Linked DNA regions of Homo sapiens. The protein of the gene in region 1 interacts with the protein of each later gene in a pairwise test. Each region holds a gene or a part of one and is shown in the gene's direction. Other genes may lie near its edges.

The links.
Region 2: the proteins of SPANXN2 (region 1) and CDCA8 interact in binary tests that used the Homo sapiens proteins (3 or more experiments, as listed by UniProt).
Region 3: the proteins of SPANXN2 (region 1) and L3MBTL3 interact in binary tests that used the Homo sapiens proteins (3 or more experiments, as listed by UniProt).
Region 4: the proteins of SPANXN2 (region 1) and NOL12 interact in binary tests that used the Homo sapiens proteins (3 or more experiments, as listed by UniProt).
Region 5: the proteins of SPANXN2 (region 1) and ZNF438 interact in binary tests that used the Homo sapiens proteins (3 or more experiments, as listed by UniProt).
Region 6: the proteins of SPANXN2 (region 1) and SYTL4 interact in binary tests that used the Homo sapiens proteins (3 or more experiments, as listed by UniProt).
Region 7: the proteins of SPANXN2 (region 1) and RRP1 interact in binary tests that used the Homo sapiens proteins (3 or more experiments, as listed by UniProt).

Annotation. Positions count from the first base shown.
Region 1 is NC_000023.11:143,711,071-143,715,323, reverse strand, and holds the end of SPANXN2 (sperm protein associated with the nucleus on the X chromosome N2), read left to right. Parts: intron 1-2,824; coding exon 2,825-3,289; 3' UTR 3,290-3,369; downstream 3,370-4,253.
Region 2 is NC_000001.11:37,694,724-37,699,327, forward strand, and holds part of CDCA8 (borealin), read left to right. Parts: intron 1-1,186; coding exon 1,187-1,227; intron 1,228-4,181; coding exon 4,182-4,254; intron 4,255-4,604.
Region 3 is NC_000006.12:130,052,290-130,056,893, forward strand, and holds part of L3MBTL3 (lethal(3)malignant brain tumor-like protein 3), read left to right. Parts: intron 1-569; coding exon 570-702; intron 703-2,881; coding exon 2,882-2,966; intron 2,967-4,604. UniProt on the Homo sapiens protein: Is a negative regulator of Notch target genes expression, required for RBPJ-mediated transcriptional repression. It recruits KDM1A to Notch-responsive elements and promotes KDM1A-mediated H3K4me demethylation.
Region 4 is NC_000022.11:37,691,235-37,694,654, forward strand, and holds the end of NOL12 (nucleolar protein 12), read left to right. Parts: coding exon 1-102; 3' UTR 103-2,240; downstream 2,241-3,420. UniProt on the Homo sapiens protein: Multifunctional RNA binding protein that plays a role in RNA metabolism and DNA maintenance. Participates in the resolution of DNA stress and the maintenance of genome integrity by localizing to sites of DNA insults.
Region 5 is NC_000010.11:30,849,812-30,854,415, reverse strand, and holds part of ZNF438 (zinc finger protein 438), read left to right. Parts: intron 1-4,048; coding exon 4,049-4,604. UniProt on the Homo sapiens protein: Isoform 1 acts as a transcriptional repressor.
Region 6 is NC_000023.11:100,721,465-100,726,068, reverse strand, and holds part of SYTL4 (synaptotagmin-like protein 4), read left to right. Parts: intron 1-4,604. UniProt on the Homo sapiens protein: Modulates exocytosis of dense-core granules and secretion of hormones in the pancreas and the pituitary. Interacts with vesicles containing negatively charged phospholipids in a Ca(2+)-independent manner.
Region 7 is NC_000021.9:43,795,871-43,800,474, forward strand, and holds part of RRP1 (ribosomal RNA processing protein 1 homolog A), read left to right. Parts: intron 1-1,551; coding exon 1,552-1,681; intron 1,682-1,760; coding exon 1,761-1,825; intron 1,826-2,036; coding exon 2,037-2,230; intron 2,231-3,699; coding exon 3,700-3,779; intron 3,780-4,604. UniProt on the Homo sapiens protein: Plays a critical role in the generation of 28S rRNA.

The DNA of each region.
Region 1 (4,253 bases):
GACCAGTCTGTGCCTAGAGGGGATTTTATTGATTCTCACAATAGAGATCGAAGAACAGAAAAAGGGTCTAGAATATTCTGGTCAAACTGAGTAACTAGTTGTCCTATTGAGTATCCAATAGGAAAGACATGGGCTTACTAGAGACTGACAGAATTACCCTGGGTTCCGAGGTGGTGATGGCAGTAGGGGCGGTGGACTCCAGGCCCCACCTGTCTTCAGGTACAGGTGGTGAAGCAGGATGAAGAGTTTCAGTGAGCACAGTCTGACTTCCAGTGTTGCTTGATACCACAGATGGGGCAAGATTTCCAGAGTGTCCTGGGATTAGGCTAGGCTTTTGCCCAGTGTCCCTGTTAGACGAACTTGTAACAGGCTCCTGGAGTTGACTGTTGCCAAGTTGAGGAATTCTGTAGGCCTTGGGAACCCTGTTGAGTGGCAGCTACCAGCATTTGGTATTTAGCCTGGTCCTTCTTTAGGTTTGGATTTTTTAGTTCTTCCTCTCTAATCTTATAGATCTTGAAGGCCACTTTGATTAAGTCTCTTTGGAAGGTTTGAGGGCCACCCTCCAGTTTTTTAAGTTTTTTTCAAATGTCTGGGTCTGACTGGGAGATAAAGTATAAATGGAGGTAGTTTTTGCCCTTATTGGTATTAGGGCTTAAGGTGGCATATTTAGTTGTGACTTTTGAAAGGCAGGAGAGGAAACGAGCAGGGACAGCTTTATTTATGCCAGCTAGAAGGCATGATATCATATGGCCTGATTTCTGTCTGTCTACTGAAGTTGCCTGATAATTCCAACTGGGGCCAGTTCTGGGGACAGCTAGGGTCCCTATTGGATTATGAGCAGCATCTTGTTGGTGGAGGGTGTTCTCATGGACCTGGGCACCCATAAAGATGTGTTCCCTGTCCTCCAGGGTGAGGGTAGAGGAGAGGATGACATATATGTCATGCCAGGTAAGGTCATAAGATTTAGGGAAGTACAAGAATTCCTTGTGGAAGGAGGTTGGATCCATTGAAAAGGAGTCAAGTCTCCTTTCAATATGGGAAAACTCAGCTAGAGAGAAGGGAACTTGAATTCAGATTATGCCTTTAGCCCTCGCAACCTCCTGCAAGGGAAGGACTTTGGAAGGCCTTTGGGCATGTGCCTGGTTCCTAGCGAAAGGGGGTTGGGTGTGAGACCTGGTTTGAGGTGGAGAAGGAAGGGGGATGGAGGGCGACAGTAAGGGGGTGGAGGAGCCGGATCCGAAGGAGAAGGTGGAGGGAATGGGAGAGGGCAGGAGGCTGAAGAACGGGTGTGTTGGCCAGGTTGAAATTCAGAGGAAGAAGACTTGTCCGGAGGAAGAGGCATTTTGGGGGGTTTCTCCTTGAGGAGGAAGATTTGAAAAGGTGAACAAGATTGGCAGAGAGAGAGAGAGAGAGAGAGAGAGAGAGAGAGAGTGAGGCATGAAAGGAGATAAGCAAAGCACTTCAGATTATTTACCATTGCATTGAAGAAAGTTTTTTAGATTATGTTGAATTTGGAAGTTGAATGTTTTGTTTTTTGGAAGAGGGGAGTGAATACTCTGGATGGGAGTGACTACCCCTGAGGAAAGTGAGTACCCTGGAAGGGAGTGAGTACCCCAGGGGTGAGCGAGTACTCCAGAGAGAAGTGAATACCCCATAGGGAAGTGAGTACTTGATTCCTCCTGGGAGAAGGGACCTGGAGAGTTGGGGCAGCCCCGTACTATTCATGCTCCCCAGAGGCCAGAGCAGCCAGAGTGGCAAACGTTTTGAAGGTGTACCCTAAGAAGGGAGGCTGCAGTCACCTGGTGACTGGGGAGACCTCTCACCCAGCACTGGAATTTTTTGGAGAACGGGCAGAAATAGAGAGGAATCTGGAAAGGAGGAAGAGGGAGACTCACCCACTAATTGAAGCCCAGTGTTGGATGTGATGTCCAGAAATGGGGGTGATCCTTGTTGCAGCTGCCCGGAAACAGGAAGGAACAAAAAATAAGGTGGCTTGTTTGATCACTATCTGGAGGTTAGCCCAGGTCTGGAGAAGACTAGAGAATAAGGAGAATGGGACTGGGAACAGGGAGTACACTCAGGATCTGGAAGCAGGCCCTGGTCTAGTTTGTGCTGCTTGCTGCTTTCCAGGTTGCAAGAGAAAACTTACCCATTAGAACCCAATCACCACTCCAGGTTTTGGCACCAAAATGTTAGGTTTTGAAGGGAAGGCAAGGATGAAAGAAAGACACACAGGGGGCAGCTCAAACAGCAACACAGGAATATGGCAGACACCTATGGAAGTGGAGGACAAGCTTAATGCCAGAGCCCACCGCCGCTTACAGGCTGGGGTACTTACAGGGATGGGCAGGAGGGATCTGGGCAATGTGGGATGCTATCCGGCAGGATATTGATAAGATGTTCTTATGATCAGGTGGTTTGGCCCTTTTTCCAGTGGAATATCATTGTGGCGTTCCTTAGAACTTTGCCAAGCAAGATATGATAGGAATGTTTCTTTAGTTGGGCCTTTGTCCGCCCTGTGGTCAGGTGGTTAGGCAGGATGTTTCTCACGGCCTGAGCCCCCATGGAGTGTCTCACTTTGACCAAGGTCTGCAAAATAGCAAAGAACTTGCGAAATCGTGCAGTTTGGACTAACAGATGACCCTACCCATGCTCCTCTTCTTCTTCCCCATAGATCACTACCCTATGATTCCACCTTGTTCTTCTCTGGCACAAACCCCTTCCTCAACCTGCATTCCTTCTCATAAAGCCCCCCTTGCTATCCAGTCTCTACCCTATTCACCCAAAATAATGACTTTCTGGCCTCTCCCTGTTTTCTTATCAGATGCAGGAGGCACCGAACAGGGTCTTAGCCCCCAAACAGAGCTTGCAAAAGACAAAAACAATAGAATATCTAACAATAATAGTGTATTACTACAGGAAGCATACGAAAATAAATTCAAATCAACTGGAGAAGGACCAGTCCCGAGAGAACTCCATCAATCCAGTCCAAGAGGAGGAGGACGAAGGCCTAGACTCAGCTGAAGGATCTTCACAGGAGGACGAAGACCTGGACTCATCTGAAGGATCTTCACAGGAGGACGAAGACCTGGACTCATCTGAAGGATCTTCACAGGAGGACGAAGACCTGGACTCATCTGAAGGATCTTCACAGGAGGACGAAGACCTGGACTCATCTGAAGGATCTTCACAGGAGGACGAAGACCTGGACCCACCTGAAGGATCTTCACAGGAGGACGAAGACCTAGACTCATCTGAAGGATCTTCACAGGAGGGTGGGGAGGACTAGTCAAACATGGAGAAACCAAATTGGACAAATCCTCACTACCAATGGCGATGATTACAATAAAATCAAGTTTGAGGAGCTGATGACCGTGTATATCTCTGCCTGTTGTCTGATGGTGGGAAGGAAGGGAAGGGAAGAGGTAGGCATTTGAGAAGGGAAGGATATGAGATCCTGTAGGGTTGGCGGACAGACCCACAGGTTGACAGTTTCCCAGACATTGTAAATAAGGCCTGGGGGAGGACTTATTCCTAGAGACAAATTTTCTTCTTAAAATTTTATCTAACAGGAGAGGAAGAAAAGGACTTGGTGTTTGGAGCATGTGAATATGTAGAAGGGCATTTAAAAAGATCTGTATTGGCCGGGCACGGTGGCTCATGCCTATAATCCCAGCACTTTGGGAGGCCGAAGCAGACGATCTCCTGAGGTCAGGAGTTCGAGACCAGCCTGTCCAACATGGCAAACCCCAGTCTCTACTAAAAAAAAAAAATACAAAAATTAGCTGGGAGTGGTGGCAGGTGCCTGTAATCCCAGCTACATGCGAGGCTGAGGCAGGAGAATCACTTGAACACAGGAGGCGGAAGTTGTAGTGAGCTGAGATCTGGCCACTGCACTCCAGTCTGGGGGATAGAGCGAGACTCTGTCTTCAAAAATAAATAAATAAAATAAAATACAAAGATCTGTATTGTATGTAGGTGACAGTGACACTCTTTCCAAAATGAAGACATCAAAATCACCACCTCCAGGCCACATACCTCATAGTGATTTGGGTTGCAACTCAACCAATACTGTAAGCAACTGAAGCCCCTCAAATGGACAAAAAACCTCACCCTACATAGAGTAAGACAGCATGTCACACACACCAAAATAATGGTGTTTGGAGGCCATGGTCCCAATACTAGGGCATTTCCTTGTTAAGAAACTAGTGGCCATTGTCTACTGCAGGCAATAAATGAAAGCATAGTCTACA
Region 2 (4,604 bases), on another chromosome or scaffold:
AAGGCCTCATAAGCTAGTTAGTGGGATAGTCTGTTTGAACCCAGGTATTCTGGTTTCATAGCCTGAGATCTTAACTGTTTTACAAGATACTATGAGAGTTTCTAGCAGGAGGTTCTAACCTAACTTTTTATTCTACATGTAAATCTCACAAAGACCTTTTCATTCAACACGTTTACTGTACATCTATTGACTGCTAGATTTTTGCCAGAAGCAAAGGATGTCATCTCTGGAATTCAGTCCAAGGCAGGGATGGACATTTAAACAGCTTTGAGTAGTTATTGGGTATAATGAGGGTGAGCAACTAACTCTACACTTTGCAGCAAACTGCTGAGATAGAAAAATAAGCAGGCTGGGCACAGTGGCTCACCTGGAATTCCAGCACTTTGGGAGGCCAAGGCAGGTGGATTACTTGAGCCCAGGAATTTGAGACCAGCCTGGGCAACATAACAAGACCATATCTTTAAGCTTTAAAAAAAATAATTAAAAATAAATTTTTAAAAAAGAAAAATAAGCAGAGGGCAGGGCATAGGGTGGGGATTCATGCCTATAATCCTAGCACTTTGGGAGGCCAAGGCAGGAGTATCACTTGACCCCAGGAGTTCAAAACCAGCCTGGGCAACATAGCAGGAGACCACATCTCTACTTAAAAAAAAAAAAAAAAAAAAAAAAGACAACCTGGACAACTTGGCGAAACCCTATCTCTACAAAAAAACACAAAAATTAGCCGAATGTGGTGGCGCATGCCTGTAGTCCCAGCTACTTGGGAGGCCAAGGTGGGAGGATCAGTTGAGCCCAGGAGACAGCCAAGGAGGCGCCACTCCACTCCAGCTTGGGTGACAGAGCAAGACTCTGTCTCAAAAATAAATAAAATTTAAAATATATTTTTTAAAAAGAAAAATAAGCAGAATTTTTGGGGTGATGTTTGAGCTGAGTTTTGAAGGATGAGTTAGAAATTTGTTAAGTACGGAGGTGAATTTCAGGCAGAGGAAATACAAAGTACCATGGCAACAAGTCATGAGAGTCAGTGGCACATTTGGGATATAACTTGGAGAAAGAATAGATTAGATGGTGAAGGTCCTTGAAGGTTAGACCAAGGGCTGGACCAGTTTTAGAAAGATAAATGGTACTATTAGGCAAGATGATTTATTGTTAAAATGTAATAGTAACTACAACGTTCTTTTTAAAGCCCTTGGAGGAAACAAACAGGCCCTGGAAGAGGCGGCAACAGTAAGTGACCTTTCCTATTTTCCAGCCAGTGGTTACTTAAGTCTAGTCCAGTCCCCAGATCCAACTAATAGATGCTTACTGTGGAAGAGGTTTCATAAAGGGACATCATCTGTTTGTGTCAACTGAAAAATTAGAGTTGGACCAGACACTGTATACATGAGACCCAGATAGTTCTGAGCCCTACAGAAGGTGGCAGTTCTGTTTTTGACCAATTTCTTGCAGTCCTTTGTTCTGAACTCTACAGCGGAAGTAGAAAGCCTCAAGCCCAAGTTCCTTTAAGCGCCTGAGTCATTACACTATGCATTGGCCTGCTAGATGATAAAGGTGTTTCATCATGTCGTACTGTAGAAGCAGTGCTTTTGCTTGGGATGCTCAGTATTCCCCAACCCCTCTCATCTCCTTCCTCCCAGCATCAGTGCCAGGATTGAAGGCAGTAAGATGGGGATGCAAAATAGAGCATTTAAAGCTGCACTGTCCAGTGTAGTAGCCACTGGGCATATGTAGCTATTTCAGTTAATTACAATTAATAAAATTAAAGAATTCATTTCCTCAGACATACTAGCCACATTTTACATGTTCAATACCTACATATGACTAGTAGCTACTCCATCAGAGAGCACAGAAATAGAACATTGCTACTCTTGCAGAAAGTTTTATGAGACAGCATTGGGAACTAGTCCATACATGGGCTTCACAGAGTCCCTAGGCACTCTAAAATAATATACAAACAATGCGTGTGTATGCACGCATTTGTGTATCTTTCTGTTAGTTTATTGTAGCCTTGATCAGATTTACAAAGTAAACCCCAAAATTACATCTTTTGTTGAGTTGATCAGAATCATTTGGAATATCAGGGTTTGAAGGAGTCTGACCACCAAGGGCACATAGCAGATCTCCGCCAGCTTCATTCAGAAGGTAAAGGTAATGAGGAGCCAATTATCAATTTGGAAAAAATTGGAGCATTTGGGAGAGAGGTGGGGATTATTCACCCCCCTACATACACTGAGCTCCAATGTTTTAAAAGAGTTACCTCTGAGATGAATTATGCTTACTAGCTAATGCAGTTCTCTCTTTTTAAATTAGAAATACAGAACTGCAAATGAGAACTTCTAATGTAATATGAGAGAGCCATTGTTACCACACCAAGTTGAGAGAATTCTAGCCTTGACTAATATGATTTAAAACTCCAGAAAGGAACGATAGAAAATCTATAAAAGCTCTTAGTTGGGAAGTGTGTTGGGGCTCCCAAGACCACCTCCAGGTTTGGTGATTCACTAGGAGGATTCATGGGGCTCAGCATACAGTCACACCCATGGCGATGATTTATTACAGTGAAAGTATACAAAGCATTAATCAACAAAGGAGAAAATTGCATAGGACAAAGTCCAGAGGAAACCAGGCTTCTAGGAGTCCACTCCCTGTAGAGTCAAACAGAACATGCTTAATTCAACACATATGAAATGCTGTCTACCAGAAAATCTGATTAGAGAGTCAATGCCCAGAGTTTTAACTGGGGGCTGCTCACATAGGCATCCTCTGCCTAGCACATGTCAAAATCCTAGACTTTCAGGAGGGAAGTAGGTGTTCAGCATGAGCCATATTGTTTGCATAAAGTTTAGGCACAGTGAGGCATCTTGTTAAGGAAAGGTGGGAATCTTTCTGAAATCAAGTTCCCAGATGCCAACCGAGGCCAGGCTTGCAAACAGGCCTTTCTATGTGTATCAGTCTCAGGCCTGCTCTGTTAACTGTCCTGCACAGTAGATGCCCAGTGGCCTGCCACCACTGATGACTCCATAAAATGCCAGTTGTTTCTAGAGATGGCAGAAGGTTGGCAGGAATGCCCCTACTTTCTGTTGCATCAAGCCTGGCAAACATCAGTAACTTATTACAGCCCTATTTCTTGCTAAGCCTAAGACAGCCTCAGAATCCTTCTCTGAGTATGTCAAGCAGTCCCTACCAGAAATGAAACCTGTGCCATTCCAAACCTGTAGTAATTATTCTGATGTTTACATGTGTTCTATAAGGAAAGGACTGTGAATCATGACTGCTCTTTGTAGTGCCCATACTTATTACCATATGAAAAAAAAACGAATTTGAATGGTGACTGGAAGCCTTTTTGAAGGACCCAGGATCATCATAGAAAACCTTATTGAGACCCTGTAGATTTATCGAAAAAATGGTAAGCTTGACACACCACCAAGTGTTGTAGAGGATGTAGATCATTAGGAACTTGTATTGTTTGCAGATGGGCTGTAGTCAAGGGTAACCACTTTGGGAAACAATTTGGCATAATGCGAAGGCTGAATATTTATGTAACCTATAATCCCTGTCATGTCCTATCCAAAGGATAGAGCCAAGGGGAAACTTGGACATGTACCTCAGACACATGTAAGACAGTTCAAGGTAGCAGTGTTTATAATAGCAGGAAACTATTGATGGAAGATGGACAAATCCATTGTGGTATATTCACACAGTGGGATATGATATAGCAATGAAAACAAATTAACTACAACCACAAAGAGTGGTGAAAACAGCCAAAACCAAACAAAATGCTTAAGTACACACTTGTGAAAAAGCACATCTGTGTGTGCACACATGTATACACACATATGCATGTATCTGTGAGCACATACACATGTACCTTTCGATAAAGCAAGTGCAATGATATGGTTACCCCTGGGGAATGAAGGATTAGGAGACTCATCACCTTTGGAAGAAGAGATAAGAAAATGGAACAAGGAATGAATACAGAGCCAGAAGCAAGTTATTGGCAATGTTTTAGGTCTTGGGCTGTGTGGTGGGTTTATGGGAGTTTGCTATATTGTATATTGTATCACTAACATTTAACAGTCTTATGTATTAAATAATAGTTTTAAAAAAGTTTTTATCTTGAAATATTGTTCCTCATATTTTGGTGGAATAAGCCTGGTGCTTTCTGGCTATGTTTGTCATAGGCTGACCTGGATATCACCGAAATAAACAAACTAACAGCAGAAGCTATTCAGACACCCCTGAAATCTGCCAAAAGTGAGTACCTTTCAAAACTCCTTGTTGTACAGAAAGAACTGAGGCTCAGGTTGCTTGGTTGGCTGCTCAGGCAGCGCCTTGTTGGTAGAGCCTCTTCCCTTTAATGTCTGGTTCTTAATCTTGTAAATCCAAAAACTTGCTTTTGGATGGTGCATTTAGTTAATTTTTTTTCCCCCGAACAGCAATTCAAACCAGAAATTTAGTTAATTTTAGGCAGGACTGCTAAAAACCAAACTCAAGACCCGTGTGCGAGCTAAAATGAAAGTGAAAAAAGGGGGGAAAAAAGCTGTGCTAGAAACCAAACATTGTTGCCTGCTTACTTTCTCCTGGGTTAAATAGATGACAAGATT
Region 3 (4,604 bases), on another chromosome or scaffold:
AGAGACGGGGTTTCACCATGTTAGCCAGGATGGTCTCAATATCCTGACCTCATGATCCGCCTGCCTCAGCCTCCCGAAATGCTGGGATTAAAGGTGTGAGCCACTGCGCCCAACTGGAACTGTCTTGTTTTTCTTGGATAACTGATGTTTCACAATGTTACACTTAGCCTTTTTTCAATTGGATTTGTCATTCTTAATAACTGCTAGATCCTTCTTTGACCCTGAAAACAAATATCTCTAAATAATCAATTCTTTTATTAGTATAGATGGTAGATGTGACAGACAAATAACTTGTTAGAACCTATTTCATACATATTGCTGGCCCCCTTTTGAAATTAATATATAAGGTAATTTTCATTTTCTGCCCTGACAGACAGATGTCATATGTAATAGTTGTTTTCAGTGTTCCTGATATATGATATTCTCATGCCTACAGATTTCTCCTGGTAGTTAAAGATTTTTCCTTTGCAGGGTGATTTTTTTTTAATGATTGTTGCATTGATAATCAACAAGTAGATGTTTGATAGGTATTGTCTCTTGTCACTATTTTGGGTTTATAAACACAACAGAGATCAGAAGGAAGAAAGGGACGTAGAAGAAGACAATGAGGAAGAAGATCCTAAGTGTAGTCGGAAGAAAAAACCAAAATTATCTCTGAAAGCTGACACCAAGGAGGATGGAGAAGAGAGAGATGATGAAATGGTGAGTGCCTCTGCCTGACACCAGGAGCACAGGGATGCATCTTTAGTGGGTAGCATCACAGTCACAAGCACTGCTCTGGAGCCCACTGAGTTCAAATGTGGGTTCCAGGACTATCTGTGTTAGTGTCAGTAAGTTACATGGCCTCTGTGTGCCTTGCTGTCCTGATCTCAAAATGGGAATCATAAACAATAGTATCCTTCTCTCAGGGTGAAAAAGTGGGATGTCCTGAAATTTAGTGCTAGGGTGAAAGGGAACATTTAAAAACCTTCAGTCTTGTAGATGAATCTTAAATTCCTCTTGACAACACAATGCCAATCTCATTTCTTTAAATTGCAGACAGATCTCATAAAACTATCTGAGTGGGCTGGGCGTGGTGGCTCATGCCTGTAATCCCAGCACTTTGGGAGGCCGAGGCCGGCAGATCACGAGGTCGGGAGATCGAGACCATCCTGGCTAACCCGGTGAAACCCCTTCCTTACTAAAAATACAAAAAATTAGGTAGGCGTGGTGGCAGGCTCCTGTAGTCCCAGCTACTCGGGAGGCTGAGGCAGGAGAATGGCGTGAACCTGGGAGGTGGAGCTTGCAATGAGCTGAGATTGCACCACTGCACTCCAGCCTGGGCGACAGAGCGAGACTGTGTCTCAAAAAAAAAAAACAAAAAAAACTATCTGAGTGGTTAAAAAATGGCACACAAATATCAGGTATATTTGGGGAAAAGCCATTCAAAATGTGTGAATTAAAACATAAATATCATATTCCTAAAGGCATCTATTAATGGTTTTATAGGAAAAGGGAACTTTGAGATCTGGAAGTGTTTCCGTTGAGATCGGTATTGTACAACTGTTACTTGGGAGTCACTGTTCTAGGAGCTGAGAATACAGGGATGCATAAGACAAATAGATGACATAGAGTCTCTCCTGGCAGAGACACTGCATTCTTGTTTAGGGGGTAGTTAATCTACAAACAAAATGAACAGGAGAAATGTCACCTAGTGATAAGTGCTACGTTGAGAATTAAAATAGGGCATTAGGATTGGCTGACTACTTTAGGTTGGGTTGTCAGGGAGCCCTCTCAAAGACGATGGCATGAACAGTGTGATCTGATGAATGAAGAGGAGTCAGCTATGTGAAGTTGAGAGTGAGGCGTCTTCTGGGTAGTAGAACTTCCAGAGGAAAGTCCTTAAGGTAAGAACTTGCACAGCATGTTTTGTTCGAGGAAATAAAAGGAAGTCTGGTCACTGGTTTAGGAGAGGGTGGAGTAAGATGAAGTTGAAGAGGTACCTGTGGTCCAGGGCATGTAGGGTTTTATGGTAAACAAGAGTCGAGGGTGTTCATTGTATTCTGAGTGTCAGGGGAAGCCTCTGGAAAGTTAAGACAAGGGAATGCTTTGATATGATGTATGTTTTAAATGACCACTGTAGCCCTGAGTGGAATCAGGGAAACCAGTTAGGAGTTTATTGCAGTAGACAACGTAAGAAGGCTGAAGATGATGGAAGTCCGTGGATTTGGGAATCAATGTTAGAGGTAGGGTTGTCAGAGTGTGTGAGGAAAAGAGAAAAATCAGGGATAAAACTTTGGCTTTAACAATTGGCTGGATAATCCTGTCTCTTACTGAGAATGGGAAGATGAGGGTGGAGTGCAGAACACAGAGTCCTTTGGCCATGATGGGTTTGAAATGCTGATTAACCATCCAGGTGAAGATCCCAAGTAGGCATTTGTCTACAGCCACATGGAGTAAGGAAGAGGAAGCTGAGGGTGTGGATTGGGAGTATCTGGCCTATGTAAGATGACCTTGAAAACCCAGGGAAAGGGACTAGAAAGAGTAGAGAAGGGAACTGGATTGGAGGAGACATCAGCAGAGGAGACAAAGAGGAGCCAGTAAGGCGTGAGGAAAATCAGAGCAGAGCGGTCACGCAGCTGAGAGCAGAAAGTGTTTCAAGGAGCGGGGAGCGGTGTCCATGCCCTTCCAACCGGTAACACGTGGATACAGTCTTATTTTGTAATAACCTCAGGCCAAAAGCAACAGTTTTCAGATGAACTATATTCTTACTTTCCTTAAAAGTTACAAAGTAAAACTGAAGAAAAGAACAACAGAAAAAGTGCTTTCTGATAGCTCTCTAACTATTCACTGGTGCCAATTTCTTGAACTTTAAAGTCATAATTTTCCTTTCTTTTTGTAGGAGAACAAACAAGATGTAAGAATCCTGAGGGGTTCGCAGAGAGCACGGAGGAAAAGACGAGGGGATTCGGCTGTACTAAAGCAGGGTGAGCTGATGAAAATAAAGTCTTACTTGTAACTTTATGAAATTGGAAATGGTTCACACAGGTGGAAATTTTAGTCATGCCACTTAAAGTATTACTTCAGGATTTTCTTTGATTCAGTTTGGTCAATAAAGATTTGAGATTTTGAGGATAAGGAAAAAAATGAAAATTCTTAACTTTCAAGTGGTTTCAGGGTAAGCATGAGAACTGTCTTCCTCCCTCCCTCTCTCCCTCCCTCTCTCCCTCCCTCTCTCCCTGCCTCTCTCCCTGCCTCTCTCCCTCTCTCCCTCCCTGTCTCCCTCTCTCCCTCCCTTTCTCCCTCCCTCCTTCTCTCCCTCTCTCCCTCCCTCTCTGTCTCCGCCTCTCCCTGTCTCCCTCCCTCCCTCCCTCCCTCTCTCTCCCTCCCTCCCTCTCTCTCCCTCCCTCCATCCCTCTCTCCCTCTCTCTTTCTCTCTCTCTCTCTCTCTGTTCCCCTCATCAAGTAGGTGTTTCCTGCCTCTGCTTCTCTATAAAACCTCTGTTCTTGTTCATTTCCCACAGTTTTAGGTTTTTAATGTTCCCTCTCAAAACATGAGCTCCTGGCGTGGAACCTGTTTTTTGCCTTCTCTTTTCATCTCTTCTGTCTTCTCTTCCCTTCCCTTCCCTTCTGTCCCCTCCCCTTCCCTTCCCTCCCCTCCCCTCCCCTCTCTTTTCGAGATGGATTCTCACTCTGTCACCCAGGCTGAAGTATGGTGGCGCAATCTCGGCTCACAGCAGCCTCCACCTCCTGGGTTCACGTGATTCCCCTGCCACAGCCTCCCAAGTAGCTGGGATTACAGGTGTGCACCACCAAGCCTGGCTAATTTTTGTATTTTTAGTAGAGATGGGGTTTCATCATATTGGCCAGGCTGGTCTCGAACTCCTGACCTCAAGCCATCTGCCCGTGTCTACCTCCCAAAGTGCTGGGATTACAGGCATGAGCCACTGTGCCTGGCCCTTTTTTTTGTTTGTTTCATTGTTCCTCAGGCAGCATTTTATTTCCAGGAGGAAACCGGCCCTGAAGCCCTTCCCTTTAGTATTTGTCTTGATGTACTTTTCTGCTTATTCTGTGTGGACCTTGGGTCACTTCCATAGAGGCCCTGGGGGATGTCCCCCACAAGGCTCTATCCCCTTGCCTGCCTCAGCTTGCAGCCTGCACAGTCAGTCATACTGTCCCGACAAACCAGGGCCATGAACCAGGTGCTTCTCCTCAGTGCCGGGGTGCATTCTAGCCTTGTTCTGTTAATTCCTCAAAAAACTGGAAATAGCCCCACCTGCCCTAGGCACACAGCTTAACTTTTGTGTCTTTTCAGAGATGACCTTCTATTTTACATCACTGAGATGAAGGGTGTAAATTCCTCAGTTCCTCTGCACTCTGCCTCCAAATGTCTGTTTCTTTCACCATCATTTCCCCTGCCCTTCTTTTTCACCTCAGATGAACTTCCAGGCCCCTGGCTCTTCTGGGACCTTGTTCCTTCAGTCACATTTTTTCCTTAAGTTTTCCGATTTTTTTCTTCTCTTTGTATACTCTACCTTAGCCTGTTCCAGTCTCATCCCCAAAGTACCTTTCTCTCAGCTTTGCTACCCATCAGGCTATTACATTTTTCCTTCATTTCCAGTATT
Region 4 (3,420 bases), on another chromosome or scaffold:
CCCCGACGGGCCCAGGACTCCAAAAAGCCCCCAAGGGCCCCTCGTACCAGCAAGGCCCAGCGCCGCCGTCTCACAGGCAAAGCACGGCACAGCGGGGAGTGAGACCGAGAACGAAGCGGTGCCCCAGTCTAGGCTGCGGGGACCTGTCCTTGCTCAGCTTGGCTGTCCCTGTAGCCCAGCCTGCACCTAGGTAATGACTGCACAGCTCAAGGTTGGGAAGCCAGGACCTCTCTGGCCTGGGGCCAGCTGCCTTTGCCTGGGGTCAGCTGCCTTTGCCTGGGGTTTGAATTCCCGAAGGAGCAGGCAGCTGAGAGCAGGCCTCCCCCAGGAAGAGCCTTCAGAGCCACGTGGGGGCATCTTCCCAAATGTGCACCCCACCTGGCACTCATCAGATTTGTGCGCTTGTGATTTGTTTGTCCTTGATACCACGCACAAGGGCAGGTTTTTGGGGTGGTGGAAATGGCCAGGGCCCATGGGTCTGTCTCCAGCAGTTAGCCCTGTGGCTGCAATAAAGTACAGTTCTCCCTGTGTTAAGATCCTAACCAGGGTTAAGGATCAGTGTGTCCGTTGCTAGAATCCAGAGCCCACCTGCTGCTCTGAAAAGCAGGCTCCTGAGGCCAGTGGGGGAGCAGTGCCCCCCATGCCCTTCACCGAGGAGCCTCTGTGCCTGTCCCTTGTCCTCGGCCCCAGGAGTCTCCTCAACTGACACTGAAGTGGTGGAAGCAGTTGAGTGCCAGGTCATCCCCCATCACCACACTGGGGCAGCGTCCCCAGGCTTCCAGCAGCTCCCAGGTGGGTCCCAACGTGGAAGGATTAATTAATTCTTTCTAAAGCAGTTGCAGCCGGGCTTGGTGGCTCACGCCTGTAATCCCAGCACTTTGGGAGGCCCAGGCGGGCAGATCACTTAAGGTCGGGAGCTCGAGACCAGCCTGGCCAACATGGTGAAACCCTGTCTCTACTAAAAATGCAAAAATTAGCCAGGTGTGGTGGCACACGCGTGTAATCCCAGCTACTTGGGAGGCTGAGGTGGAAGAATCACTTGAACCCTGGAGGCGGAGGCTGCAGTGAGCCGAGATCACGCCATTGCACTCCAGCCTGGGCAACGTTGTGACCTTGTCTCAAAAAAAAACTAAAAAATAAAGCAGTTGCATCTTGACTCGTACAAAAGTAGCCCCCACCAGAGTAGACCCTGCGGGTGCCAGCTAGAACTCCACAAGGGGCCATGTCTTCACACTCCTTCCAGATGGATGAGTTGATGGAAACCCTGTCCCTTCCTTGTCCCAGCTTGTCAGTCCTGGGCAGGAGAGAATTTCAGGTTGTGCCTTGGTTAGAGGAGCTGTGTTGGGTCCTAAACACTAGGACCACAAAGGGGAGTGAACTGTGTTCCCAGGGCTTGCTGACGCCCGTGGACTATGGAGTCAGGATGACAGGACAGTGCGGTGAGGGGCATCTGCGACAGGACTGCGGGCTCTACCCGCCCTGATGTGGGAGCTCCTGGAGTGGGGGTGAGCAGTGAGCCAGGGTCTGCAGGGCTGTCCTCTCTCCACAGCCAACAGCCAGGCCTTACAGTGGGGCAGGCTTAGTGACTGTGCCTCAGTTATGCTGTACCTGGGAGTGGGCAGGCCCTCTCCCATGTCACCATCAAAACCCACTGATGAAGGCTGGTGGGAGTCTGAGGGCTGCACCCGGGTATGGTGAGTTCCCCTCAGGGATTGTGCTGAGCGCCTTGGCCTGGCTTCTTGGCTCCGCCCACCTGCTCTCCCTGCCACCAAGTTGTCTTCCCCGGGTGGCATGTGCCACTTGGCTGCCTCGTGCCTGGGCACAGTGGTGCCTATTATGGGCCCTCCAGGTGGCTCTGGTGCTCAGCCTGCTGTGAGCAGGAACAGCTGAGTCCCAGGGGTTCTTGCACACAGCAGGGCTCGGGTTTGAATCCAGGCTCTGCTGCTTGGTCGCTGCATGAGCTTCTGCTGTGCTGACCTCTCTGGTTTGTCTCGTCATGTGTAAGGTGACACCAGATACCTACCTCTTAGGGCTGCCCCGAGACTAAAATAAGACCATGTGCATGAACCACTTACCAAAGTGCCTGTTGCTCTCCAGGTGTGCCTACCGCATGTTGCCGCTGCTGTTTCTGCTGGGACGTCTGACTCCAGTTCCTTCTCCCCTCTCCAGTGACAAGGTCATTTACAACTTACATTTACAATTTATAGTGTTTACCAGTATTAAATTCTCAGCCACTCCTTTCCATGTGTGCCTTCATTTCTTCCAGCAGACCAGGGAAGTTGAGTCACAGTGATTTGACCAATTCTAGGATCAGGGTGGTGGATTCAGAGCCCTCTGGAGAACTTGTCTTTTCTCCAGGAGCCCCTCACCATTGCTGTGGAGGCACCTGGGCTCCTTCCTCCTGTCGCTTTCCAGAGTTGGGCCTCTGAGAGATGTATGAGGAAGAGTTAAGTTTAGCTGCATATACTCTAAAACAAAATTGAAAAACAACTGGCTTGTGTAAAAGAGTTCCCATCCCAAAGATGGGAGGTTCCCAGCCTGGAGCTGGGAAGGCTGGAGGCTGGGATGCCGGGCTTCTAACTCTATGCTGTGTTCTATGTTGTGTGCCATTTTCAACACATGGCCCCTGCCTCACAGCACAAGGTGGCTGCTTGAGCTGCAGCCATTATGTCTGCATTTCAGCCAGCAGGACAGAAAAGGGGATGAAGAACATGCCCCTCCTTTTGAAAACATTTAGGGCCAGGTATGGTGGCTCACGCCTGTAATCCCAGCGCTTTGGGAGGCCAAGGCGGGTGGATCACCTGAGGTCGGGAGTTCGAGACCAGCCTGACCAACATGGAGAAACCCCTGTCTCTACTAAAAATACAAAATTAGCTGGGTGTGGTGGCGCATGCCTGTAATCCCAGCTACTCGAGAGGCTGAGCCAGGAGAATTGCTTGAACCTGGGAGGTGGAGGTTGCGGTGAGCCGAGATCATGCCATTGCCCTCCAGCCTTGGCAACAAGTGTGAAACTCCGTCTCAAAAAAAAAAAAAAAGAAAAATTGGCACTTGGCATGTCCTGTTGGCCAGGCAGGAGGCAAAGCATGAGGCAGAGGCAAGGGAGCTCTTAGCTACAAGACAGGCTAGGAACTCTTCTATTTATTTATTTTTTGAGATGTAGTATTGCTCATCATCCAGGCTGGAGTGCAATGGTACAATCTCGGCTCACTGCAACCTCTGCTCCCCGGATTCAAGCAACTCTCCTGCCTCAGCCTCCCCAGTAGCTGGGACTATAGGCACCTGCCACCACGCCTGACTAATTTTTGTGTTTTTAGTAGAGATGGGATTTTGCCACGTTGGTCAGGCTGGTCTCGAACTCTTGACCTCAGGTGATCCACCCACCGTGGCCTCCCAAAGTGCTGGGATTACAGGCATGAGCCA
Region 5 (4,604 bases), on another chromosome or scaffold:
ACACTGTAGGCCCTGAAGACACAGACCAACTCCCTGTCCTCTAGGAATTCTAGGGAAGCCAGGCAGTATATGTGATACTTTATCTATTAATTTTTATTTTTTGAGATGGAGTCTCGCTCTGTCACCCAGGCTGCAGTGCAGTGGCGCTATTTCGGCTCACTGCAAACTCCCGGGTTCACGCCATTCTCCTTCCTCAGCCTCCCGAGTAGCTGGGACTACAGGCGCCCACCACCACGCCCAGCTAATTTTTTTGTATTTTTAGTAGAGACGGGGTTTCACCATGTTAGCCAGGATGGTCTCGATCTGCTGACCTTGTCATCCACCTGTCTCGGCCTCCCAAAGTGCTGGGATTACAGGCGTGAGCCACCGTGCCCGGCCTATATGTGATACTTTATTCATTTATTCATTCATTAATTCATTGGAGATGTAGTCTCACTGTGTTGCCCAGGCTGGAGTACAGTGGCATGATCTCAGCTCACTGCAACCTCCACCTCCCAGGTTTAAGCAGTTCCCCTGCCTCAGCCTCCCAAGTAGCTGGGATTACAGGCACTTGCCACCACACTCGGCTAATTTTTGTATTTTTAGTAGAAACGGTTTCACCATGTTGACCAGGCTGGTCTCAAACTCCTGACCTCAAGTGATCTGCCTGCCTTAGCCTCCCAAAGTGCTGGGATTACAGGCATATGCCACCATGCCTGGCCATAAATGGAGCATATGTTCTAGAGAAAATGAAACAGGAAGAGGGAGCAGGGAGTTCACAATGGGATATAGTTTTAAATAAGGTCATCAGAGGAGATGCTCGTTGAGAAGAAGCCATTTGTGCAAAACCTTGAAGGAAACGATGCAGCAAGTACTGGGGATTTACTGAGGGAAGAGTGTCTTGGGTGGGCGGGAGTAGCCAATGCTCCTCCCAGCCAGGAGCCTCCTCTCAGGAGGTGCATGCCCAGAACAGCAAAGAGGCCACCATGGCTGGAGTGGAGCAAGTAGAGGAAATATGTCAAAGAGGCTCCTGAGAACCTTTTTAAGCATGAGGCCTTTTAAGCCATTGCAGGGATTTTGGCTTTACTCTGAGATGAAGAGCCATTGGACAGATTTGAGATGAGGAAGTCATAGATCTTGTGCTATGATGTGTTATTGTCACATATTCTTTCAAGAGGGTGAATTACTAAGCCTTTGTTCTAGCTCATCTTGCGGTAAATATTTTCTGCCCAGTTAGGAGGAAGAACTAGTGATAAATGACCCAATATTTTCTCTTCTCTTCCTTCCACACCCCAGATCTGTTGTGTAAATGCAAAGAACATTATTACTGTTAATGTAATTATTTATTAAGCCACATCTCTAAGTAACCAAAAGCCATCAATAATTTTAGGCTTTCTGCAAAGTCTCTCAATCCTGATTTAAAGTGTTTATTTATGACTTATTTTGGTACTTCTTCCAAAAAAAAAAAGATGAGAAGGTGAGGTTTAAAATGAAAAACATTTAAATTTAAAGGCTATGAAAATAAAACTTAAAAATTAAAATTATGTAGGAAGAAGTAGCAATCCATACAGATGACTATTGTCAAGTGATTTACCACTCAATTTACCCATAAGCGGAATTCACGGTAACCAAACTCAGAAGGAAAACAACAAATAACATAATTATCTTTGTCTGATTTTTCCAGACAATAGCACTCACTAGTCCTTGTACTTCTTACTCTCGTGCAGGCTATCCTGTGAACTTATGTTTCATAATGTCCTTTTTCTTTGCAAAACAATTACTTTCTAAAAATAAACTGGTCAATATAAATTTCACCTTATTTCTACTAGGTTGCTTGTTTATTTAGGCGGTGTCATTTCTGCTGAAAGAATCAACTTCCTGCTAAAATTGTTAATTCACTCACTGTAGGCATTAAAATCAAGGTTGACGGGCCGGGCGCGGTGGCTCATGCCTGTAATCCCAGCACTTTGGGAGGCCGAGGCGGGCAGATCACCTGAGGTCGGGAGTTCGAGACCAGCCTGACCAACATGGAGAAACCCTGTCTCTACTAAAAATACAAAATTAGCTGGGTGTGGTGGCACATGCCTGTAATCCCAGTTACTTGGGAGGTTGAGGCAGGAGAATCACTTGAACCCAGGAGGCAGAGGTTGCTGTGAGCCGAGATCGCACCATTGCACTCACCTAAGCAATAAGAGCAAAACTCCGTCTCAAAAAAAAAAAAGAAAAAAGAAAATCAAGGTTGATGTTACATTTTCTTTTCTTTTTTTTTTGAGACGGAGTCTCGCTCAGACTGTTGCCCAGGCTGGAGTATAGTGGTGCGATCTCGGCTCACTACAACCTCTGCCTCCAGGGTTCAAGTGATTCTCCTGCCTCAGCCTCGCCAGTAGCTGAGATTACAGGCATCTGCCACCATGCCTGGCTAATTTTTTTTTTGTATTTTTAGTAGAGACAGAGTTTCATCACGTGGCCAGGTTGGTTTCAAGCTCCTGACCTCAAGTGATCCGCCCATCTCAGCCTCCCAAAGTGCTAGGATTATAGACGTGAGCCCCCGTGCCCAGCTGATTTTACATTTTCAATTGTCTGTTTCACTAGATTGTCTGCTACCTACCTTGTATCCTCTAACAGATAGTGTTCAGTCCCCTACCCCCAACTCTAAAATCTAAAAAACTCTGAAAACAGAAGTTTATGAAAAGTTGTTACAAACTCATTCAGAAGCAAAAACTTGAACTGAAATAAAGACAATTTAAAAATCTTCATTTGTCCAACTTGCGAATATTTGCATGTTTTGCTACAGAAGTGGTAATAGGTTCAATTATGGGTGCCCTGCAGATTCCGCTGGGAGTTATGTAACATTTAGTACACGCATCTTACTACTTTTCCAAAATTTGAAAATATAAATTCCAAACCACATCTTCCTCCAAAAATTTCAGAAAAGGGATTGTGGACTTGGCAATAGCCAATCCTGGGATAATGATTGGAATAATGTAGGTGCCTAGTAAATGTGAATTGAAGTTTGATTAATATGAGATACTTAGAAATTAGAAACATTTCTGCAGCCAGGTCTTGTGACCTTGAGACCTCAGAGAATAAAATAGATAATTCAGTCTTTAGAAGCAGGACACCAAAATGTTTCCTTAATTGTTCTCTTAAGGTAGTAGTAATTGATCTTAGGTCAGGCTAATAAATCCAGAAAGAATGAAGTGTTACCCTATCAGTCAAAATTGTTCCTATTAGTATCCTAGAAGGTGCTTTTTATGCCATTCACATATTTTGCATGTTGTCTCTGTATCTGTACTTATCACTTTGTATCTTTCTGTTTTTTGTTCAACATTTTTTAAAGGTGTCACATCAGCTTTTTTAATACTGGTGATTTAATTGCAAAAGCACACATAAACAGTTTGAAAGGTGTGAGAAGAAATTCGTAAGTCACATGGGGAAACAGCAACAAAGCTAGCATTCAGTCTGGAATGCATCCACTGTGCAAAACAAATTCAACTGCCAGTGGGTCAAATGGTGTATCCTGAGATTGAGTGAAAAATGAGTTTGATACAAGAAGCGCTTGTTTTATACAAAGGATACAGTGGGAAATATCAAGATGAGATGAATATAGGCTGTACCCTCACAAAGCTGAAGCTTAATAGGGAAAGCAGAACATGTATATAAAATAATAAACTACATAGCAGAACATACCAGACATCATGTGAAGATGAGTGGGGATAGGTTAAATGGAGAGGATGGACTTGCAGAATACATGGATGAGAAGGACGGAATTTTCGCTGTCAAGCAGTGTTGACTAGTAGAGATACACATAAACACATAAATTATTATGGAAAATGGTAAATAACATAATAGGAGCTAAGGAACCATAGATAAGTATAGAAATCCTTGGGGAAGGTAGGCAGGAATTGATCTTCAAGCTGGTCTTGAGGGACACAAGATTTTGCCCAGAAGGCTTGGAGGTAGGTCAAGGAATCTGTTCTGGGCAGAGTAAATAAGATGCTTGTTGTTTGAAGTATCACTAACAGAACAGTTACATACAGTAACTCTTTATATTTTATTGTCATTGCAGGTGAATCAAACATCCCTTCTGGAACAATACAGAGTAGGAAAGGTTTGCAGAATAAGAGTCAGTTTAGGACCATTGCACCAAAAATTGTGCCCAAAGTCCTAACGTCCAGAATGCTGCCATGTCATTCACCATCACGCTCTGATCAGGTGAATCTGGGACCCTCCATCAACTCCAAGCTGCTGGGGATGTCCACCCAGAACTATGCCCTGATGCAGGTTGCTGGCCAGGAGGGGACATTTTCTCTTGTTGCTCTGCCACATGTTGCCTCAGCTCAGCCAATTCAGAAACCCAGAATGTCCCTACCTGAAAACCTGAAACTTCCTATTCCTAGATATCAACCCCCTAGAAATAGCAAAGCATCAAGAAAGAAACCCATCCTGATCTTTCCTAAGAGTGGCTGTAGCAAAGCTCCTGCCCAAACCCAAATGTGTCCTCAGATGTCCCCTTCCCCACCTCACCACCCTGAACTCCTGTACAAACCCAGTCCATTTGAGGAAGTACCATCACTAGAGCAAGCCCCAGCCAGCATTAGCACAGCTGCGCTGACCAATGGAAG
Region 6 (4,604 bases), about 43 Mb from region 1:
TGGATGGCCCTGGCAGAAGAATAGTTGAAATGATGGACCACTGTGGCTTTCATATTCATATCTGTGACTATCTAAACCTAACTTGACCTTGAGTAATTTTTAAGAAGTAGAAAATTTCCATGGCATCTACACTGCTTCTTGTTTGTAGCTCTATCGATTCAGGCATCAGAATACCATTAGTATCAGTGTCTTTAAACTCATCAGAAAGCGTGATTTGATTTACTGAGGGCCTATGTTGTGCCATGCTCTGTGTTGATTTACTGAGGATTTACGTTGCACCAACTGAGAGCCTACAGTCAGGATCCTACAATGTAGATTTATCCATCTATCCATCCATCAACCCAGCTAGATGCTTGAGGTATGGCTGAGAAGAAGGTAGACAATGGCCATTTTTCTCCTGGAACTTATTTCGGCAGGGGAAGTGTATATTAAATATTGTATCACATAATTTTTTAATTACAATTGTGATAAGTTCTGTGAAGTTCAGTTTTCTTAGAAATCAGATTGTCACATTGCTTTTTAACAGGCCTTACTAATTTACATTTGCCAACAAAATATGAGAATATCTCTTAAATCCTTTTTAAAAACTGAAAATTGTCTTTCTGAAATTTTGCTGAATTAATAAGCAAACATAAAAAAATCTTTATTGCCAGTAAGAGTGAAACTTTTTCTTTTTGATGTGTATTGGCCATGTGATTTTTCCCCTTTAAGAATTATCTATTCACGCTCTCTGTCTATTGGATACTTACCTCTTCTTGTTTTTAATAGATCTCTCATTCCATGTTTGAAACCATTAGCTACACTTCTCTCCTTTCTCTCTTAGCCCTGGTGACCTTAAAATATTTTCCCCTAGTCTCTACGGCCATTCCCTTTTGATCTCCTGTGAAATTTTTTTCTTACCTAGAAGTGTTGCTGTGCTTAGGGATGGGACTACATTTTTATTACTTGACTCAATAAAAGGTAACATATAAATCTTCTGTTCCTGCTTATCCCACTCTCCAGAGGTAACAATGTTAAGATTGTATTTCTTTCTAGACATTTTTCCATTCATCCATGATCCAATCTGTCTAAAATGTAAACAAATAAAAATGGAATCATAATATATATGATTTGCAATTTTTTTAATTTAATATGCTTTCAGTGTCAGTATATATAGAACTACAGTACCTTCTTCTTTTTTTTTTTTTCTTTTTTCTTTTTATTGATCATTCTTGGGTGTTTCTCGCAGAGGGGGATTTGGCAGGGTCACAGGACAATAGTGGAGGGAAGGTCAGCAGATAAACAAGTGAACAGAGGCCTCTGGTTTTCCTAGGCCAGAGGACCCTGCGGCCTTCCGCAGTGTTTGTGTCCCTGGGTACTTGAGATTAGGGAGTGGTGATGACTCTTAACGAGCATGCTGCCTTCAAGCATCTGTTTAACAAAGCACCTCTTGCACCACCCTTAATCCATTCAACCCTGAGTGGACACAGCACATGTTTCAGAGAGCACAGGGTTGGGGGCAAGGTCACAGATCAACAGGATCCCAAGGAAGAAGAATTTTTCTTAGTACAGCACAAAATGAAAAGTCTCCCATGTCTACCTCTTTCTACACAGACATGGCAACCATCCGATTTCTCAATCTTTTCCCCACCTTTCCCCCCTTTCTATTCCACAAAACCGCCATTGTCATCATGGCCCGTTCTCAATGAGCTGTTGGGTACACCTCCCAGACGGGGTGGTGGCCGGGCAGAGGGGCTCCTCACTTCCCAGTAGGGGCGGCCGGGCAGAGGCGCCCCTCACCTCCCGGATGGGGCGGCTGGCCGGGCGGGGCGCTGACCCCCCCCACCTCCCTCCTGGACGGGGCGGCTGGCCGGGCGGGGGAGCTGATGACCCCCCCACCTCCCTCCCGGACGGGGCGGCTGGCCGTGTGGGGGGCTGACCCCCCCCACCTCCCTCCCGGACGGGGCGGCTGGCCGGGCAGAGGGGCTCCTCACTTCCCAGCAGGGGCGGCCGGGCAGAGGCGCCCCTCACCTCCCGGACGGGGCGGCTGGCTGGGCGGGGGGCTGACCCCCCCCACCTCCCTCCCGGACGGGGCGGCTGGCCGGGCGGGGGGCTGACCCCCCCACCTCCCTCCCTGACGGGGCGGCTGGCCTGGCGGGGGCTGACCCCCCACCTCCCTCCCGGACAGGGTGGCTGGCCTGGCGGGGGCTGACCCCCACCTCCCTCCCGGACGGGGTGGCTGCCAGGCGGAGACGCTCCTCACTTCCCAGACGGGGTGGCTGCCGGGCGGAGGGACTCCTCACTTCTCAGACGGTGCGGCTGCCGGGCGGAGGGGCTCCTCACTTCTCAGACGGGGCGGCCGGGCAGAGACGCTCCTCACATCCCAGACGGGGCGGCAGGGCAGAGGCGCTCCCCACATCTCAGACGATGGGCGGCCGGGCAGAGACGCTCCTCACTGCCTAGATGGGATGGCGGCCGGGATGAGGCGCTCCTCACTTCCTAGATGGGATGGCGGCCAGGCAGAGACACTCCTCACTTCCCAGATGGGGTGGCGGCCGGGCAGAGGCTGCAATCTCGGCACTTTGGGAGGCCAAGGGAGGCGGCTGGGAGGTGGAGGTTGTAGTGAGCCGAGATCACGCTACTGCACTCCAGCCTGGGCACTATTGAGCACTGAGTGAACGACACTCCGTCTGCAATCCCAGCACCTCGGGAAGCCAAGGCTGGCGGATCACTCGTGGTTAGGAGCTGGAGACCAGCCCGGCCAACACAGCGAAATCCCATCTCCACCAAAAAAATACGAAAACCAGTCAGGCGTGGCGGCGCGCGCCTGCGATCGCAGGCACTCGGCAGGCTGAGGCAGGAGAATCAGGCAGGGAGGTTGCAGTGAGCCGAGATGGCAGCAGTACAGTCCAGCTTCACCTCTGCATCAGAGGGAGACCGTACCTTCTTCTTTTTAACAAAGGCACAATATTCCCTAATATGTGTGTACAATAACTAGTCAGTTTCCTTTGATGGATGTTTATGTTCTTTAATTTTTTTTTTTTTGCTGTTTCAAATATTGAGCATCCTCAGAATATATATTTGTGAATTTACTTGAATATCAGCAGAATAAGTTTCTCAAAATGAAATGGCTATGTTAAAAATATGGTCAGTGGTACTAAAGATCCAGAGAAATCTAGGAAGACCAAGAACTGTCTATTGGATTTAGGAAGTTCTTGGTGACCTTAGAGCAATTTCAGAGAACTGTGAGGCAGAAAGCTAAACTATGGTGGGTTGAGAAATGATTGGAGAGATGAGGAAGTGAAGGCAGTGATTATGTACAATTCCTTAGAGAAATCTGTCTGGCTTTGAAGAGCAGAGAAAGGGTAGTAGCAAGGAAGGAGTTGAGATTGAGGACCTGTTATTTATTTATTTATTTATTTATTTAGGAAGGACTTGAGTTCCTTTAAAGGCTGGTGGGAAGGAGGGACTAATTAATAGAGCAAAATCCTTGGAAGGCAAAGTCCTTATGCCAGATGGGAGGGGATCCAGATTGAGGTAGAGGATTATCCTCAATAGGCATAGATGAAAGTAGGTTCATAGATTTGGCGGCAGGAACTTGTCTGATGGTATTTCTATTTCTCTATGATATAATAGTTAAGGCCAACCTCTTAGAGCAGGGGTTAAGATGGGACAAGGTTTGAGTTAGATATTTGTGGTATTTGAAGAAGGTTTGAAATAGTTATTGTGGAGAACAGGAGAGCAGCCTAGGGAAGCATAGTTGCAGTGCCAGGCAGGGTTAAGATGAGCTTGGTGACCAAGAATTCATATGGATAATAATCTACCAGAGTGTGATTTTTTTTTCTCCAGTAGATCTCAGGAGTCCTTGTGCATGCATAAAGTATAACAGTTGGGCTTAGAAGAGCTATGGTTTTTTAAATCAGATATTTGCAGTGAAATTATGCATTATTGAGGATATTGACAAGAGTGCAGTTGAAACAATAGAATTGGCTGGGTGCGGTGGCTCACACCAGTAATCCCAGCACTTTGGGAGGCTGAGGCGGGTGGATCACCTGAGGTTAGGAGCTCGAGACCAGTCTGGCCAACATGGTGAAACCCCATCTCTACTAAAAATACAAAAATTAGCCGGGCATGGTGGCGCACACCTGTAATCCCAGCTACTTGGGAGGCTGAGGCAGGAGAATCGCTTGAATCCAGGAGGCAGTGGTTGCAGTGAGCCAAGATCATGCCACTGCACTCCAGCCAGAGCAATAGAGAAAAAGTCTCAGAAAAAAAAAAGAGAAAGAAACAATAAAATTTAAATGTTATTGGGAAGGAAGTAAAGATGGGAAGGAGCTGAGGAGGTGAAAGCAGAAGGGTCTATGGAAGACTGCCCCCATCCAAGAAATCTGAGAACAGGAATGGGGCTAGTTGGGGGGCTCATTGGCTGAATAGGCTAGAAGCACAGCAGGTTGTGGTCAGAGAGGGGGTGTTGAATCAGTGATATCAAAGGTGGAGAAGTCCTAGATGATAAGCTCTTGGGTGTGGCTGAATATGATATATGGTATTCTTGATGCCAGCTCATTCATTCAACAAATATTTATTTTGTGCATATTATGATCCAGGCAGTGCTCTAGGCACCAAAG
Region 7 (4,604 bases), on another chromosome or scaffold:
GTGGCTCACATCTGTAATCCCAGCACTTTGGGAGGCCGAGGCGGGCAGATCACAAGGTCAAGAGATCGAGACCATCCTGGCCACCATGGTGAAACCGTGTCTCTACTAAAAGTACAAAAATTAGATAAATGCATAGAAAAGAATTAGCAGGCTGGTTATGGTGGGTTAAGGGGATCTCTTGAGCCCAGGAGTTTGAGGCTGCAGTGATCTGTGACTGAGCCACTGCACTCTAGCCTAGGTGATAGAGTGAGATTCTGGTTTTTTGTTTTTTTTTTTTAAAGAATCAGCAGGAATTGAACTGTGGCTGCTGAGTTTCTCTAGGTTTGAGTTGCATGGGTGATTTTGCATTTAGGGCAGCGGTGCCTCTGGTTTGGAGGGATTTTCATTCTTCTATTCCCTGGCAGGACTCTGATGCCAGGAGTCTCATTCATTCTGGGCCTTAGCATTGTGGATTACCCCATAGGGGTCTCATGGCTTAAGCTGAATTAAATGTTAAAGGGATGATTTTACTTGTGTTAACTTTTTTTGGCATATTATTACAAGAGTACTTTTCTCCCTGTAACTGAGAATTCAGCACAGGAATCATGTGGAAGACCTCGGTGCCTTCCCCCAATGCCTGCTGCGGTCCCAGTGCTGACAGTGGGGTCCGCTCTTCCCGCCCTCTTGGATCTCCTGCAGGCATAACCAGGCTGTCATTAATATCCACGCCATTGCCACTGGCCTGGGAAGTCGGTCCCTTGCATCTGTGTGTCTTCCTCTTGGTCTCAGCACCTGTTCTTGCCTCTGTCTCGTTTTTCCTGAGCCTTAGAGAGCATCACTTTTCCTTTCCATCACGAGTGATTCTCCAGCCTTGCTACGGAGCTTCCTAAGGATCACACAGTTTACAGATCTGAGTTAGGCAGCTGCGTTATTAAGCACCCCAGGAGGTCCAGATGCATGTAGGTGCTACACATTATTCTCTGGGGCTGTCTAGTCTTCAGATCCAGGGCCTGTGATGCCATCAAACCCGCCTGCCAGGGAGAGCTCTGGTGGACGTCACAGTTGGAATGCGTCGTGCGGCAGGGCCCAGGAAGCCAGCAGGTGGCTCATGGTCCTCGGCCCCTTTCTGGGCCTCCACCTTCCTTTCTCTGCCTGTGCTGTCCTGACGTGTCTTCCCCAGCGGTACCCAGTGGAGGCAGTGGAGAGGAACACCAGGCAGGGCGTCTCGTCTCAGCCAAGCCTTTCTCTCTGCTAGCAATCTTGAGGACAGAGGGAAGGCCTGTCTGAATGTTTACACGTGCTGCATTTTGTAGCTGACATGCACACTCAGGCCATACGTTCTGGTGGTGGTGCTGGTCACATAACTCCCTAACTGCAAGACTGCCTTGCGCTGGAGGAGACCTAGGATCGTTGATATCATCTGCGTGGACTTTAAGGCTGGCATGTTTGCAGACAGTGGCGCCTGCCCGCACTTAGGTTCCCATCAGAGCGTGTAACCATGGGAGAGTGGGGGGCACGGCTGTCTTGGGGCTCATCGAGGCTGCCTGTCATGTTTGCTTTTTCTTTCCTCAGACAGATCGAGGAGCTGCTAGAGCTGCTGATGACTGAGATCCTGCACCCCAGCAGCCAGGCCCCCAACGGTGTGAAGAGCCACTTCATCGAGATCTTCCTGGAGGAGCTGACCAAAGTGGGCGCCGAGGAGGTGAGGCTGGGCTCCGACGGGGCGGTGGAGCTGGGCGTTTGTGGAGGAGGAACTGAGCTCCCGCTGGCTTTCCCCGTAGCTTACGGCAGACCAGAACCTGAAGTTCATCGACCCCTTCTGCAGAATTGCTGCCCGGACCAAGGAGTAAGTGGTGGGTGGCCTGATCGGGCCCGACTCCTTCACTGAGTTCTTCCATGGGGCTGCTGTTGTGGGGGTGCTGCTCCCTCGAGGGATGAATCTGTCTCAGAGTGGCCGCTGGCCGTGTGGGTGGGGAGAGGTTGCAGGGGAGTCGGCGGCTTCCGCTTGGGAATCCAGCATAACGGGCCTGCTCACCGGCCTCTGCTCTGCCCCTCAGTTCCTTGGTTTTGAACAACATCACTCGAGGCATCTTTGAGACGATTGTGGAGCAGGCCCCGCTTGCCATTGAAGACCTCCTGAATGAACTGGACACACAGGATGAGGAGGTGGCGTCGGACAGTGATGAGTCCTCTGAGGGTGGTGAGCGTGGAGACGCGCTGTCCCAGAAGAGGTCTGAGAAGCCGCCCGCAGGTGGGGGTCACACTGCGCCTGGCTTCTCCTCGGGGCCTGTCCTGGGCTGAGCCAGTGCGATCTCCTGCTGGGTTGCTCCTGCCACCTCCTACCTGGTCCCCTTGTCTCTGCCCCTCTCCACAGTCCATCCTCAGCATAGAAGCCAGAGTGACTTCTGTGGGCACCAAGCACACGTCGTTTCCCCTCATCCCCCAGCCTCTGATGTGCTCCACGCCCTCTCCGGACCCCTGGGCTCCTCGGTCTAACGCATGCCTCTGGCTCAGTTGGCCCCCTAGACTCGTTCCTGCCTTGGTGCCGAGTCTCTCCGTCCCTCCCACCGTCTCTCCCCCCATCACTCTCTGGGGCTGGACTCTTTCAGCCTCCTGGCCTCTCCCAGCCCCCAACGCAGTCCTCCCCATAGCGTCACTCTGTGGCACGGGATGTGAATCACTTGCTCCTCGTGTTCCTCGTTCCTGGCCCGTCTCCCCAGAGGACAGCAAGCTCTGTCCATATTGACCATGACTGGGTTCAGGCCTGAGACCTCAGGGCACCTGACTGCTCTGTGTGCAGTGTGTGTGAGGGGCAGGTGTACTCACCTGCCCCTCACTGCCTGCCAGAGGCCTCTGTGGGCAGCCGTGGGGTCCAGCCTGGCCCATTTTTTGTTTTGATGCTGCACTCATTGTCCGAGCCTGCTGGGTGGTCTGAGCTCTAAGTGTGGCATCCTGGTGCTGTGGAGGGCATGTCTTTGACCACGCTCAGGACCCCAGTATGCCCCAAATCAGTGCTGTGGCCACTGTTCCCCTTGGCTTCCTAATCAGAAGACCCCCTCCCCACCGCCCCCAGCACTTGGCCCGGCCACCCTGTATGCTTCTCCCTGGTCTCTGCCTTGCCCTTCTCTCTCAGTAGCTGAGGTGCCTGGCAGGTCCGCTAGTGCCTGCTGCTGGCCCCCTGCTGCCAGCTACAGAGCAGACCCTTGTCACATGCTGCCCCACAGCTGCCTGTTGCCCAAAAACCTTTCTTCTGCAGACAGTGCCATCAAAGCCCCAAATGCCCAGCCTAGCTCGAGCACCCAGCCGAAACATCAGCTCCCACAGCTTCTGGACCAGGCCACCCTGAGGCTCCTCACTTCCAGAACTTTTGACATGGCCTTTGTTGCCCAAGATGCCAGCTTGTAGTCAGCCACTCAGGGCTGTGTAGGCACCTGTGCCCTGGGACATCTTTTTTTCCTTTGCAGGCCTGAGGTGGCACCTCTCATCCTGTCCATACGAGATTAGAGGTCACATGGCACCTAGTATCTGCCTTGAGCTGTGGGCTTTCCCGCCTGTGCCCATGTTCTGACCAGGGTGCAGGGTGGGCTGTCCGTTCCCGGGTGTTTCCCGCCTGTGCCCGTGCTCCGACCAGGGTGCACGGAGCGGGCTCTCCATTCCTGGATGTTTGGGGCCAGCACACGTTGGGCACAGGTAGGGTTCACGGGGTCCCTTTTGTTCCAGGCTCCATCTGCAGGGCTGAACCTGAGGCTGGTGAGGAGCAGGCAGGTGACGACAGGGACAGTGGCGGCCCCGTTCTCCAGGTGGGTTCCCTGGGCTCATGGCTGTGCCCTCAGCCTTTGCCCCTCTGTGCTACCGCTTGCTCTGGAAGAGGAGGGGGGCGTTAGGAGGGAGGATGGCAGCTGTTGGCATGGAGAGTTACCCGGACAGGGGTTAGCTTTGAAGGAGGGATGGGTGCCCCAACCCTGCCCGCCTGTAGACGAGTGGGATCATTGAGAGTGGGGCTGGGGCCTGGGAAAGTGGGGCTGGGGCCTGGGAGGGTGGGCTCAGGCAGAACTGCATTATCCAGGGCTGGCCTCACCTCACGCTGTCCTCTTGCCTCACACATGGGCAGCCCCCCAGATTTCCTGCGGCCCCCTCGTTGGGGTGCTGGTGGGGAATGAGATGGCATGTGCCAAGCGGCTGGCCTGTGGGTCCCAGCGAGGAATCCACTCAGCCAGTGGGGTCTGACTTCAGGCAAATTGGAAACTTAAATGTTTTAAGTTTTAAATATGATTATCTGCAGACTGAATAAAATGTGGCTATCTTGGGTTAAAATTGATCAATTTAACCTATGTTGTTCGTGCTTGTCTGTGTGGTTCCTAGAGTGGTAAAGCTGCAGGCAGGCTACCGGCGGGCGTGTGCCCTGCAGTGTGCCCCGCAGTGTGCATCTTCCAGAGTGTGCCCCGCAGTGCGTGCCCCGCAGTGCGCCCGCAGCTTGTGTGGTGCCCGCTGTGCTGTAGAGTGGGTGGAGCTGCAGGACCCTCAGTGAGGGTGGGCTGTGTTCCTGTGAGCCGGGTGGAGAACCTGCAAGTGGGACCAAGTGCTATCTGGGTCTCAGGGGTTCCACGTTCTCGGAGCACGCAGAG